3 linked regions of the Homo sapiens genome follow. Each later gene encodes a partner of the first gene's protein in a complex. Each region holds a gene or a part of one and is shown in the gene's direction. Other genes may lie near its edges. The genes, in order: NGFR, TRADD and ARHGDIA.

Evidence for each region.
Region 2: the proteins of NGFR (region 1) and TRADD are in contact, whole or in part, in an NMR structure (PDB 7CSQ), measured with the Homo sapiens proteins. Residues at the interface, in NP_002498.1 of Homo sapiens: Glu345, Glu346, Glu348, Lys349, Leu350, Asn352, Gly353, Ser354, Ala355, Glu379, Ala380, Cys381, Arg384, Glu420; in NP_001310481.1 of Homo sapiens: Thr201, Phe202, Asn211, Ala275, Glu276, Arg278, Arg279, Thr281, Gln283, Arg284, Glu287.
Region 3: the proteins of NGFR (region 1) and ARHGDIA are in contact, whole or in part, in an NMR structure (PDB 8X8T), measured with the Homo sapiens proteins. Residues at the interface, in NP_002498.1 of Homo sapiens: Arg274, Trp275, Ser277, Cys278, Lys279, Gln280, Lys282, Gln283, Gly284, Ala285, Ser287, Arg288, Pro289, Val290, Asn291, Gln292, Thr293, Pro294, Pro295, Pro296, Glu299, Lys300, Leu301, Ile307, Ser308, Val309, Gln312, Ser313, Asp316, Gln317; in NP_001172006.1 of Homo sapiens: Ala8, Glu9, Leu11, Ala12, Gln13, Ile14, Ala15, Ala16, Glu17, Asn18, Glu19, Glu20, Asp21, Glu22, Val25, Pro30, Ala31, Gln32, Lys33, Ile35, Gln36, Glu37, Ile38, Gln39, Glu40, Leu41, Asp42, Lys43, Asp44, Asp45.

What each region holds. Positions count from the first base shown.
Region 1 is NC_000017.11:49,493,760-49,497,359, forward strand, and holds the start of NGFR (tumor necrosis factor receptor superfamily member 16 precursor), read left to right. Parts: upstream 1-1,533; 5' UTR 1,534-1,658; coding exon 1,659-1,724; intron 1,725-3,600. UniProt on the Homo sapiens protein: Low affinity receptor which can bind to NGF, BDNF, NTF3, and NTF4. Forms a heterodimeric receptor with SORCS2 that binds the precursor forms of NGF, BDNF and NTF3 with high affinity, and has much lower affinity for mature NGF and BDNF.
Region 2 is NC_000016.10:67,153,514-67,156,949, reverse strand, and holds the end of TRADD (tumor necrosis factor receptor type 1-associated DEATH domain protein), read left to right. Parts: intron 1-281; 5' UTR 282-289; coding exon 290-440; intron 441-1,295; coding exon 1,296-1,573; intron 1,574-1,655; coding exon 1,656-1,854; intron 1,855-1,990; coding exon 1,991-2,301; 3' UTR 2,302-2,765; downstream 2,766-3,436. UniProt on the Homo sapiens protein: Adapter molecule for TNFRSF1A/TNFR1 that specifically associates with the cytoplasmic domain of activated TNFRSF1A/TNFR1 mediating its interaction with FADD.
Region 3 is NC_000017.11:81,869,586-81,873,396, reverse strand, and holds the start of ARHGDIA (rho GDP-dissociation inhibitor 1), read left to right. Parts: upstream 1-2,059; 5' UTR 2,060-2,099; intron 2,100-2,399; exon of another isoform or gene 2,400-2,761; intron 2,762-3,439; 5' UTR 3,440-3,466; coding exon 3,467-3,656; intron 3,657-3,771; coding exon 3,772-3,811. UniProt on the Homo sapiens protein: Controls Rho proteins homeostasis. Regulates the GDP/GTP exchange reaction of the Rho proteins by inhibiting the dissociation of GDP from them, and the subsequent binding of GTP to them.

The sequences.
Region 1 (3,600 bases):
GTGAGCCACCACGCGAAGCTAATTTTTGTATTTTTAGTAGAGATGAGGTTTCACTATGTTGGCCAGGCTGGTCTCGAACTCTCGACCTCAGGTGATCCACCCGCTTCGGCCTCCCAAAGTGCTGGGATTACAGGCATGTGCCTGGCCCACAAGCGCTCTTGATCTCCCTTTTGTTTCCATAACTGGGGAGGGTAGTGAGATTTTTTTTTTTTCCAGGAGGAAACTGAAATCCAAACATGGTTAAGATTTGGGTGTTGGGATAGACTTTGCAGACACCCCCATCAACTCTGTGCTCCAGGGTCTTGATGTCTGGGAACGAAGAAATGGAGGGAACAGGAAAGGGGTAAGCATGGGGGTGGGTGGCATGCTTTTGGGGTTGGGAGGCATATTATTTGGACTTGGCAAGGTTTCTAGGGCAAGATGAATTTGGTCCTAGCACATGGATGGGTACACAGATATGAGTCCATTTCACCACTTTTCTATTTATTCCCTTCTACAAAACTTTCTTGAACCCTACTGTATACCAGGAATTCAGAGAAGAAACCATAATCCCTGCCTGCAGAGCTCATAAGCCCATGGAGACACTCACAGTCTGGTGAAGTCTATATTGTTGAAGATGCATCTGTTTGTTTGTTGATGGGTGTCAGTGTGTGTGTGCACTCATGAATGTGTGTGTTTGTGTGACTGTATACATGTGAGGGCTTATGCAGACACGACTGTATACATGCATGTGTGAATGTGTACATATGCGCGTTTGAATGTCCGGATCACATATGTGCCCGTGTGCATGCCTGGAGAGGTGCATGTGTGGGACAGTCAGGTCGGCAGGAGTGCATGAGAACGGTGTGGGCACACGTAAGTGCACGATCACACATACAAGTGAGCTTGAGAGTGTGTATTCCTGTGCACTGTGTGCACACCTGTGACCCCTTCAAACCCCTCATTTGAGAATCAAATGATGTCGGAATGGACTCCACCTTGAATGTCGATGGCCGAGGTAAGGGCGCCTGCGCCCCTCCCCTCCCCCTAGGCCTCTGCCCAGGGATCTCCTGCACTGGGAAGGGGAGGGGTGGGGATGGGGTGGAGGTGGGGTGATGGACTGAGATGAAGGGCAGGGAGGGCAAGCGGGCATTCTTACTGATAGGGGGCAGTTAGGGAGCAAGGCTCCAGGGAGAAGGTGAAGCCAGAGGCGGAGGAAGATGGGTAAGAGAGTGAACCCTGTGGCGGGCCGCAGCCGGAGAGGAACAGGAACCGCAGTGGGGACGCCCTGGTCCCCGGGCCCACAGCATCCGGGACGGACGCGCAGTAGCGCGGGCCGGGAACTGGGTACCAGGGCGGGATGGGTGAGAGGCTCTAAGGGACAAGGCAGGGAGAAGCGCAGCGGGGTGCGGGGAACCGCACGCCCTCCCTTTGCCTCTGCTTCCCACCCCGAGGCGGCAGGGCGGGCGGGCGCGGTTCCGGGGGTGGGCGGGCTGGGCGGGGCGGAGGCGGGGCCGCAGCACTGGCTTCACCCAGCCTCTCCCGCCCGCAGCCAGAGCGAGCCGAGCCGCGGCCAGCTCCGGCGGGCAGGGGGGGCGCTGGAGCGCAGCGCAGCGCAGCCCCATCAGTCCGCAAAGCGGACCGAGCTGGAAGTCGAGCGCTGCCGCGGGAGGCGGGCGATGGGGGCAGGTGCCACCGGCCGCGCCATGGACGGGCCGCGCCTGCTGCTGTTGCTGCTTCTGGGGGTGAGTGTTAGCCGGAGGGGGCCCGCTCCCTTTCCCGGGATCAGAACTCCGAGAAGAGCCGGGCGCCGCCACCAAGGAAACAGAACAGAGCATTGGGGTCCCAGATACTGAGGGTGGGTGGTGGGAAAGGACCTCTGATGCCGGGACCACGAAGGAGGGTCTAGGGTTCCCGGAGCGCAGAGGCGACTCTCCAGGGTGGAGATGAGGGCAAGACCGGAGCACGGATGCCGGTCCTCAGGTACCGCAGGGGGCGGTGGGGGAGCTGGGAGGGGTCTTTCAAGAGGGGGCATGGGGCTCTCCGATGCCCAGGTTCTTCGGAAGAGGACACTCGAATGCCGGGATCCCGAAGGGACTTTCCCCTCAGCATCTCGGTCTCTGGAGAGTCGTGGGACAGAACCAAGGCGAGAGAAGGAGGGGGAACTGGACGGGGACTAGAGATGAGAGGGGCGAGCTGGGCTGGGGCGGGGAGCCCGGGACGACGGGATGGAACAATGGAGGAGGTCGGAGGGACTGGAGGCAGAGGGGACCCGGCAAGGACAATGGGGACCGGCCAGACAATGGGGGGGAGGGGCGTCGGAGGGAGAGGTTGGGGAGCGGGAGAGAGGTTGAGAAGTGGGTTAGGGAGGGCAGAAGAGGGGCGACGGCGAGGGCGGCAGAGAGATGGAAGCAGAAGGAAAGGAGACAGAGCGGGGCGCGGACCCTGAAGTGGTCGGGGTCCCGCCTGCCCGCTGAGGGACAGTGAGACGAGAAGAGAGAGCAGAGGCTTGGACATTTCCAGCGCCTGTCCCCGCGCTCCTGCTCGCGGCCTCTCCCAGTCCCGGAATTGGGGCTGCGGATCTAAGGCTGGGAGGGGAGTGCCCACTTCGCCGGGGCGAACCCGCTCCCGGGGTTCCCCCACGGCCGGCGGGCTCCTCCGACGCGCGTGTTCTCACGGCTTGAAGCAGCGCAGCGGATCGCGAGGGACGGAGCGGGTGTGCCCCTACCCGGGCTGGCGGTGGCTACGTCTCGGGGTGCAGAGCGCCGGGGCGCACTAGGCGGGGACCCTTCCTGGCCGCGCGCAGCTCTGGCTACGCAGGCGGGAGGCGGCAGGCAGGGGGCGCTGCGGGGCGAGGCAAGTGCAGTCCGCCGCTGCCTGCCTGCGAGTCTGGGGCTGCGCGCCGCTCCCCACCTAGCTGCGCGACCCGAGCGCCGCGCCCACCGCGCTCCGTGGGCTCCCGCGCCTCGAAGGGTCGGGATCCGGTCTGAGCCTCTCCTGGCTCTCGGTGCAAGCCGCTGGGCACCTAACGAGACGGGGGCGCCCGGACGCCTCGGATTCTGTAGCGCGGTATCCCGGGCCACCGACTCGGCAAAGGTCGGCGGGTCCTCCGGGTGGTCCGACGAGATTGTCAGATGTGGCCTGCTTTATGGCCATGAACCGAATGCCCTGGAAGGTCTGGCAACGGAGGAGGCGTCTTCACTCTCCCCGCCAGCATCTTTCATCAGAGCACTGCGCCCCAAATTCCGGCTTTACAGATACGGAGACTGAGGCTCTGAGAGTTTAAACGACTTGGCCAAGATCTCACAGCAAGTTGGGCCAGAGTCGTGGCTAGACTCCCCGACCTGATTCCCAGCTCGGTACTCCCCCACCTTTTCAGGGGGCAGCCGCTGTCCCAGCTCGGGGTCACGGCTGCGTTTCCCAGCAGGGCGGGGGGGGTTGACACTGTCCCCAGAGTCCGTCGGCGGTAGAGCCTGCGGGTGAGGTGGGCAGAGATTCTGTCCGGGTGCGGGCCCCAGCCCGAAAGCTCAGCCCCAGTTCCCTGGAGCTGTCAGGACCTGTGGCTGCGTCCGGGGATTTGGGAGCGACCGCGGGCACGTCTGCTGACTAACGCCGCTGGTT
Region 2 (3,436 bases), on another chromosome or scaffold:
CACTGTGACCTTGGGCTCTTTCTCCAAGAAGGCAGTGGAGGGACAGTCCTCACTGCAAGCCTGGGGCGGGTGGGACTCTGTACAGAGCCAGGAGCTCAAGGGGCTTCCTGTGAGATGGTGAACTCCTGTCCCAAGTATGCCAACCAGTGGTGGGGACAACTGAACCATGTGGGACTTGAGGCTACTGTGGTGGGGACAGCTGAACCACGTGGGGCTGGGTAGTTGTCTCCAGGGTGGAGGGAGGGGGGATGAACTGGATACCTGACTGTCTGCATCTCCAGGAGGTGAGATGGCAGCTGGGCAAAATGGGCACGAAGAGTGGGTGGGCAGCGCATACCTGTTTGTGGAGTCCTCGCTGGACAAGGTGGTCCTGTCGGATGCCTACGCGCACCCCCAGCAGAAGGTGGCAGTGTACAGGGCTCTGCAGGCTGCCTTGGCAGGTGCGTGGATGGGCGGGCATGTGGAGAGGAAGGGGTGGCCTGGAGCATTTTGTGGGTGGGCCTGGGTTTAGCCACCTTTAAGAAGAAGATTTGGGGTGGGAGGAGCAAGACGGAGGACCCCTGGCTGTGCAGACTCTCTTCTTTGCTTGTGGCATGACCTTGAGGATAGGCGTGTGTTCTCGAGTCTGTGTATGATTTACCAATTTGTGCACTAACGTCCTTTGCTCCATCCCCGCCCCCCTCCACCAGCCGGCTCACTCCTTTCTACTAATTGTGGATGTCTCTCTCCTCTTTTCCTCTCTTACTGCAGCACTCCTTGCTCAAGACCCCTCCCCAGTACCTACCCTTCCAGGCCCCCCTTTCCCATCTCAGGGCAGAGGCCACAGGAGGCTGAAGCGGGTTGGGGGATCTGTTCGTGGCCTCAGAGCGGCGAGAGCCCCTCTTCTTCCCGAGCAGTGGGAGTCGCGCTTGGTGGAGGCCGAAGACCTGAGACCTCTCGCCCTCCTCTGCCCTGCTGGCCGCCTACCCAGACGGCTTGTTTGCCCAGGGCACACGCCCCCTTTTCTGTGCTTCGAAGTCCCTCTCTTTTGCCAACCCTCATTTGGGGCGTGAGAGCGGGGGTTAGGTGGCACCCACTCTGTCTTAGGGTGCTCCCTGTGACAGATCCTGGTCTTCTTTCTGGGTTATTGCTGTTTGTATCCCAATTTTGCTTCCCAGCTGGGTACTCTGGGGTAACTGCACCCTAGGTCAGGGGATGGGACGCGGGGCTTCACCACGGGCTTCGCCCCTCCTCCGGCCGTTTGGAGAACGGCCGAGCTTGGGGACCGCCCGGCGCCTGACCGCCCGCCTCCGCAGAGAGCGGCGGGAGCCCGGACGTGCTGCAGATGCTGAAGATCCACCGCAGCGACCCGCAGCTGATCGTGCAGCTGCGATTCTGCGGGCGGCAGCCCTGTGGCCGCTTCCTCCGCGCCTACCGCGAGGGGGCGCTGCGCGCCGCGCTGCAGAGGAGCCTGGCGGCCGCGCTCGCCCAGCACTCGGTGCCGCTGCAACTGGAGCTGCGCGCCGGCGCCGAGCGGCTGGACGCTTTGCTGGCGGACGAGGAGCGCTGTTTGAGTTGCATCCTAGCCCAGCAGGTGCGGCCGGGCTAGGGTCAGGATGGGGTAGGGCGGGGATCCGCGGTTAAGTCCCCCGTGACGGCACGTTCCATTCCCCTAGCCCGACCGGCTCCGGGATGAAGAACTGGCTGAGCTGGAGGATGCGCTGCGAAATCTGAAGTGCGGCTCGGGGGCCCGGGGTGGCGACGGGGAGGTCGCTTCGGCCCCCTTGCAGCCCCCGGTGCCCTCTCTGTCGGAGGTGAAGCCGCCGCCGCCGCCGCCACCTGCCCAGACTTTTCTGTTCCAGGGTCAGCCTGTAGGTGAGGCGCAGGTGGAGAGGCGGGGTCACCAGGAGGTTGGAGTCTGGGGAGGGGCAGGGGTCGTTGCCGGGTGGGGATGGGTGGGACCGGCGCTGGGGGTCCCCGCCCTCACCCCGTTTCCCCACTCCCTCTGCAGTGAATCGGCCGCTGAGCCTGAAGGACCAACAGACGTTCGCGCGCTCTGTGGGTCTCAAATGGCGCAAGGTGGGGCGCTCACTGCAGCGAGGCTGCCGGGCGCTGCGGGACCCGGCGCTGGACTCGCTGGCCTACGAGTACGAGCGCGAGGGACTGTACGAGCAGGCCTTCCAGCTGCTGCGGCGCTTCGTGCAGGCCGAGGGCCGCCGCGCCACGCTGCAGCGCCTGGTGGAGGCACTCGAGGAGAACGAGCTCACCAGCCTGGCAGAGGACTTGCTGGGCCTGACCGATCCCAATGGCGGCCTGGCCTAGACCAGGGGTGCAGCCAGCTTTTGGAGAACCTGGATGGCCTTAGGGTTCCTTCTGCGGCTATTGCTGAACCCCTGTCCATCCACGGGACCCTGAAACTCCACTTGGCCTATCTGCTGGACCTGCTGGGGCAGAGTTGATTGCCTTCCCCAGGAGCCAGACCACTGGGGGTGCATCATTGGGGATTCTGCCTCAGGTACTTTGATAGAGTGTGGGGTGGGGGGGACCTGCTTTGGAGATCAGCCTCACCTTCTCCCATCCCAGAAGCGGGGCTTACAGCCAGCCCTTACAGTTTCACTCATGAAGCACCTTGATCTTTGGTGTCCTGGACTTCATCCTGGGTGCTGCAGATACTGCAGTGAAGTAAAACAGGAATCAATCTTGCCTGCCCCCAGCTCACACTCAGCGTGGGACCCCGAATGTTAAGCAATGATAATAAAGTATAACACGGATTTTGATGTGAGAAATACAAGTAGTAGTGGCTTACACCTGTAATCCCAACAATTTGGGAGACAGAGATAGGAGGATTGCTTGAGCTCAGGAGTTTGAGACCAGCCTGGGTAGTCCCAGCCACTTAGGAGGCTGAGGTGGGAGGATCCCTGGAGCATGGAAGGTTGAGGCTGCAGTGAGATGTCACTGAGCTACTGCACTCCAGCCTGGGTGACAGAGTGAGACCCTGTCTCAAAAAAAAAAAAAAAAAAAGAAAGAAAAAAAAAGAGAAGTTGTGGAGGATGGAGGAAGGGGCCTAACCTGGGCAGGGGACAGGGGGTAGGCTTCCTGGAGGAGATGAGTGTGAGTAGGCATAGGGGTGGGCTATCGAGAGAAGGGCAGTGTTCGGGGCACAGTCTCAGGCAAGGGCTTGAGGAAGGCTTGTGGGTTTTTCAATGAGGCCAGTAGGAAGCCTTTGAAGAGTTTCGGGAGTTAAGACTGGGAGGTGGTTGTTTTTTTTTTTTTTTTAATTTTAATTTTTTTTCAGATGGAGCTTCACTCTTATTTCCCAGGCTGTAGTGTAATGGCACGTTTTTGGCTCACTGCAACCTCCACCTCCTGGGTTCAAGCAATTCTCCTGTTTCAGCCTCCCAAGTAGCTGGGATTACAGGCGCCCACCACCATGCCCAGCTAATTTTGTATTTTTAGT
Region 3 (3,811 bases), about 32 Mb from region 1:
CCCGGCCCAACAGTTTTTTTTTAAAAGCACTTGGGTTATTGGAAAGTTGGGCAACATGATCACCTGCACAGGGGCTCTGAGTCTTTAACAGTGAAGCATTTCACACCTGATTAGGAAACGCTGTGCTGATGACATGGCACTGACAGTGTGACTCAGTTACAGAAACTCTCAAATATCCCTCCAACATTCAGAAATTTTCAAAAGACACCAAGCTCGGTATTTTGCATAGTTCTGTCCCCAAAAATGCCCTCCTGTGTTCATGTCTGTGTCTGAACAAAGCAGCTGTGCGTGTGTGTGTGCGTGTGGTCTCCACTTCTCTTGATCAGCCTGGGTTGCCTGGCAGTATGGGCCAAACAGACAGGGCCCTGTCTGCATGGAGCTCAAGAGTGATTAAAAGAGGCTGGGTGGCCGGACATGGTGGCTCACACCTGTAATCCTAGCACTTTGGGAGGCTGAGGCAGGAGGATCGCTTGAGCTCAGGGGTTCAAGACCAGCCTGAGCAACATAGTGAGACCCTGTCTGTACAAAAAATAAAAAATTAGCTGGACATGGTGTTGCACACCTGTAGTCCCAGCTACTCGGGAGGCTGAGGTGGAAGGACTGCTTGAGCCCAGGAGATAGAGGCAGCAGTAAGCTGAGATTGTACCACTGCACTCCAGCCTGGGCAAAAGAGCAAGACCCTGTCTTGAAGAAAAAAAAAAAAAAAAAAAAAGATTGGGCACCCCGGTGGTTCATGCCTGTAATCCCAGCGCTTTGGGAGGCTGAGGTGGGTGGATCACCTGAGGTCAGGAATTCGAGACCAGCTTGGCCAACATGGTGAAACCCTGTCGCTACTAAAAATACAAAAATTAGCTGGGCATGTTGGCTCACACTTGTAATCCTAACTACTCGGGAGGCTGAGGCAGGAGAATCGCTTGAACCTGAAAGGTGGAGGTTGCAGTGAGCCGAGATTGTGCCATTGTACTCAAGCCTGGGCGACACTGAGACTACGTCTCAAAAAAATAATCAATCAATAAATAAAAGAGGCGTCCACGTTAACGAGTCCACAGTCCTAACAAGTGCTGCAGGCTGGACGCGGGGCAGCGTCCCACCCAGTGTCTGGTGCAGGGCATTTAGGGGCTTGGCCTCCAGGAGAGGCGAGCCCGGGGCTGGGTGCGAGCACTGCTGCTGGGCCAGGCCACTCACGTTATGCGGCCGTTCCTGATACTTCAACACGGCCCTTGTGGGCGAATGTGTGGAATCTCGGAACAAGCGGAGTGGGGAACAGGGCTCTGCGGTGAAGCCCAGGCTGAGGCAGCCCCTCATCTGCTCACGGTGCCAGGAGCTCCCTGCCTCCTGGTCCTGAGGAGCCGCGGGATTCCTCAGGGACACTAGGGCCTCTGCAGCGGCGCCTGCGCCAGGCAGCCACGCGCGCTGCGCACGAATTCTGTCTCAGCCTGGAGAAAAACACCTCCGCTGCGCCCTCGCCCAGCACCAGCTTTCCGCGGGGCGTGCAAGGGGCTCCTCCTAGCCCCACAGCCCTGTCTTTCCACGGGGGACACCAAGGCCCTGGAACGGCCCGCGCGCCAGCGCTCTCGCCCGTGTTTAACGAGAACTTAATCCCCGTGCCCGTTACCTCCCCGAAGTCCCGGGACTAGGTGACTAGGCCCCGAAGCAAGAGTCGCAGTCGGACCGACTGGGCCGGGGAGGGCAGCGCACTGCACCTGCGCGGGCTTCCACAGCCCACGCGGCCGCCGCAGGCCTCGAGTGGGCGCGGGTTGGGCAGCGGCGAGAGGCGGGACCGGACCTCGCCTCCCGGGTGCGGGCGCCCTGGGCTCGCGTAGGGAAGTGCCCTGGCTTACAGAGGTGACCACTGACGGGGCTTGGGGTGGAAGGTGACGACGCCAGAACCCACGCGGAACGCGCCCACGAGGCCCAGCCGCAAGATGGCGACGGCGTGCCCCCGGCCACCCGCGCGCCGCGCATGCGCCCTGGCCTTCCCCGCCCGAGTGAGCGGAAGTCTCGTGACCCCGGAAGTGACAGGCAGGGCGGGCGGGGCGGCCGACGACGTTCGTCATTTAGTGCGGGAGGGATCCTGAACCGCGCGGCCGAACCCTCCGGTGAGTGGCCGTGGCGGGGCGGAGGCGGCGGGGCGGAGGCGGCGGGTCGGGGCGGGGACCGGCGGCGCCGGCGGGGGCGGGGGGCGCTGAGGTGGGGGCTTCCGCCTTTGTTCGCGCCCCGCCCTGAGCCCGCGGCAGGGTCTCGGCGGGCGGGGGCGCGGTGACAGCGGGCCAGGGCGGTGCGGGCTAGGGCGGGGCCGGGGCGGGACCGGGCGGCGGCGGCCCCGGCCCCACGTGCGGGTCCCGGGCCGGAGGGGCGGCGGGGACCAGGGGAGTGCCGGCCCCTCCCGAGCGGTCCGGAGCTTCTTTCATGGCCGCCGAGGCGCGTGGGGCCCGGGCCAGACCTGAGGGCCCCTCCTTGGGGACGCGGGGGGCGCCGGGCCGGCAGCCGCGGTCCATCGCGTTCGGGGGCGACGCGGGGATTGGGGCGCGGCCTCCCCCAGCGCCCGGGCCACGCCCGGCACGGATTGCGGGCCCTGCGGAAGTGCGGGCCGCGCCCTAGGATCCCGGCGCCTACGGCTATCCTCGCGCGGCGCGGAGGCCCCAGCCCCTGGAGGAAGCAGGGCGGCCTGGACCCCGGCCTGGGTGTCCCGGGTGTGCTGCTCCCTGACCCACCTCCCACGCTGCCGGGAAGGATCTGAGCCTGACAGATCCCCTGCCGGGTCAGTGCTGCCCCGGGCACTCCGGGCCCACCATCTACAAGAGGGCCCGAGAGTACTGAGTGGCTGTGGTAGCTCCCAAGTTGTAGGTCACAGACCCTCACAATTGTGGAGAAACCGCAGATACTTAGGATCCCCGTGTCCAGGTGGCCCCGTGCGGTATTCTAGCTGCCCCTAACATCCGAGCTCCAGGGGCATCCTGTTTGAAAGATGACGCTGAGCCGACCACACACGTTTACATGTGACTACCACGGCCAGAGGAGCAACCCTACTGAGGGATACCGAGCCCCGTTACCCCGTAGGGCGAGGGCCTGGGCAGCTCAAGAGCGGCAAGACCCTAAGAGAGGGTTTAGTGTGGGCCCCGCCGGTTGATTCTGGGGCCTGCTAGCCCCGCCCCACACATACAGGGGGCTGCTGCCTCCTCCATCGTGGAGGGGGAGGTGTGTCCTCTCTCCCCATGATCGGCTGCAGTTCCCATTTTGTCTTAGATGTTATACCTGGGGTGGGGGCACCTCACACTGCCCCAGAGGATGCCCCTGAGCAGGAATCGCGGGGGTGGAGAGGAGCGAAGGTGGCCCCCTTGGAGCCCTTTTGGAGCTCCGGCTGCAGCCCACACTCCTGCTCAGAAGTGCGCCTCCGTTGGGGATCCAGGTCCAAGGCCTGTCACCGTCCCGCCCACAGGTGTCCCGACCCAGGCTAAGCTTGAGCATGGCTGAGCAGGAGCCCACAGCCGAGCAGCTGGCCCAGATTGCAGCGGAGAACGAGGAGGATGAGCACTCGGTCAACTACAAGCCCCCGGCCCAGAAGAGCATCCAGGAGATCCAGGAGCTGGACAAGGACGACGAGAGCCTGCGAAAGTACAAGGAGGCCCTGCTGGGCCGCGTGGCCGTTTCCGCAGGTGAGTCTGGGCTGCGGGAGCCGGGTGGCCGCCCGTTCACTCCAGCTGTCTTGCCGCTCCCCAGCCCCTACTTCCACTGGTGGGGGTGGGGCCCTCACCTGCTGTCACTCCCCAGACCCCAACGTCCCCAACGTCGTGGTGACTGGCCTGACCCT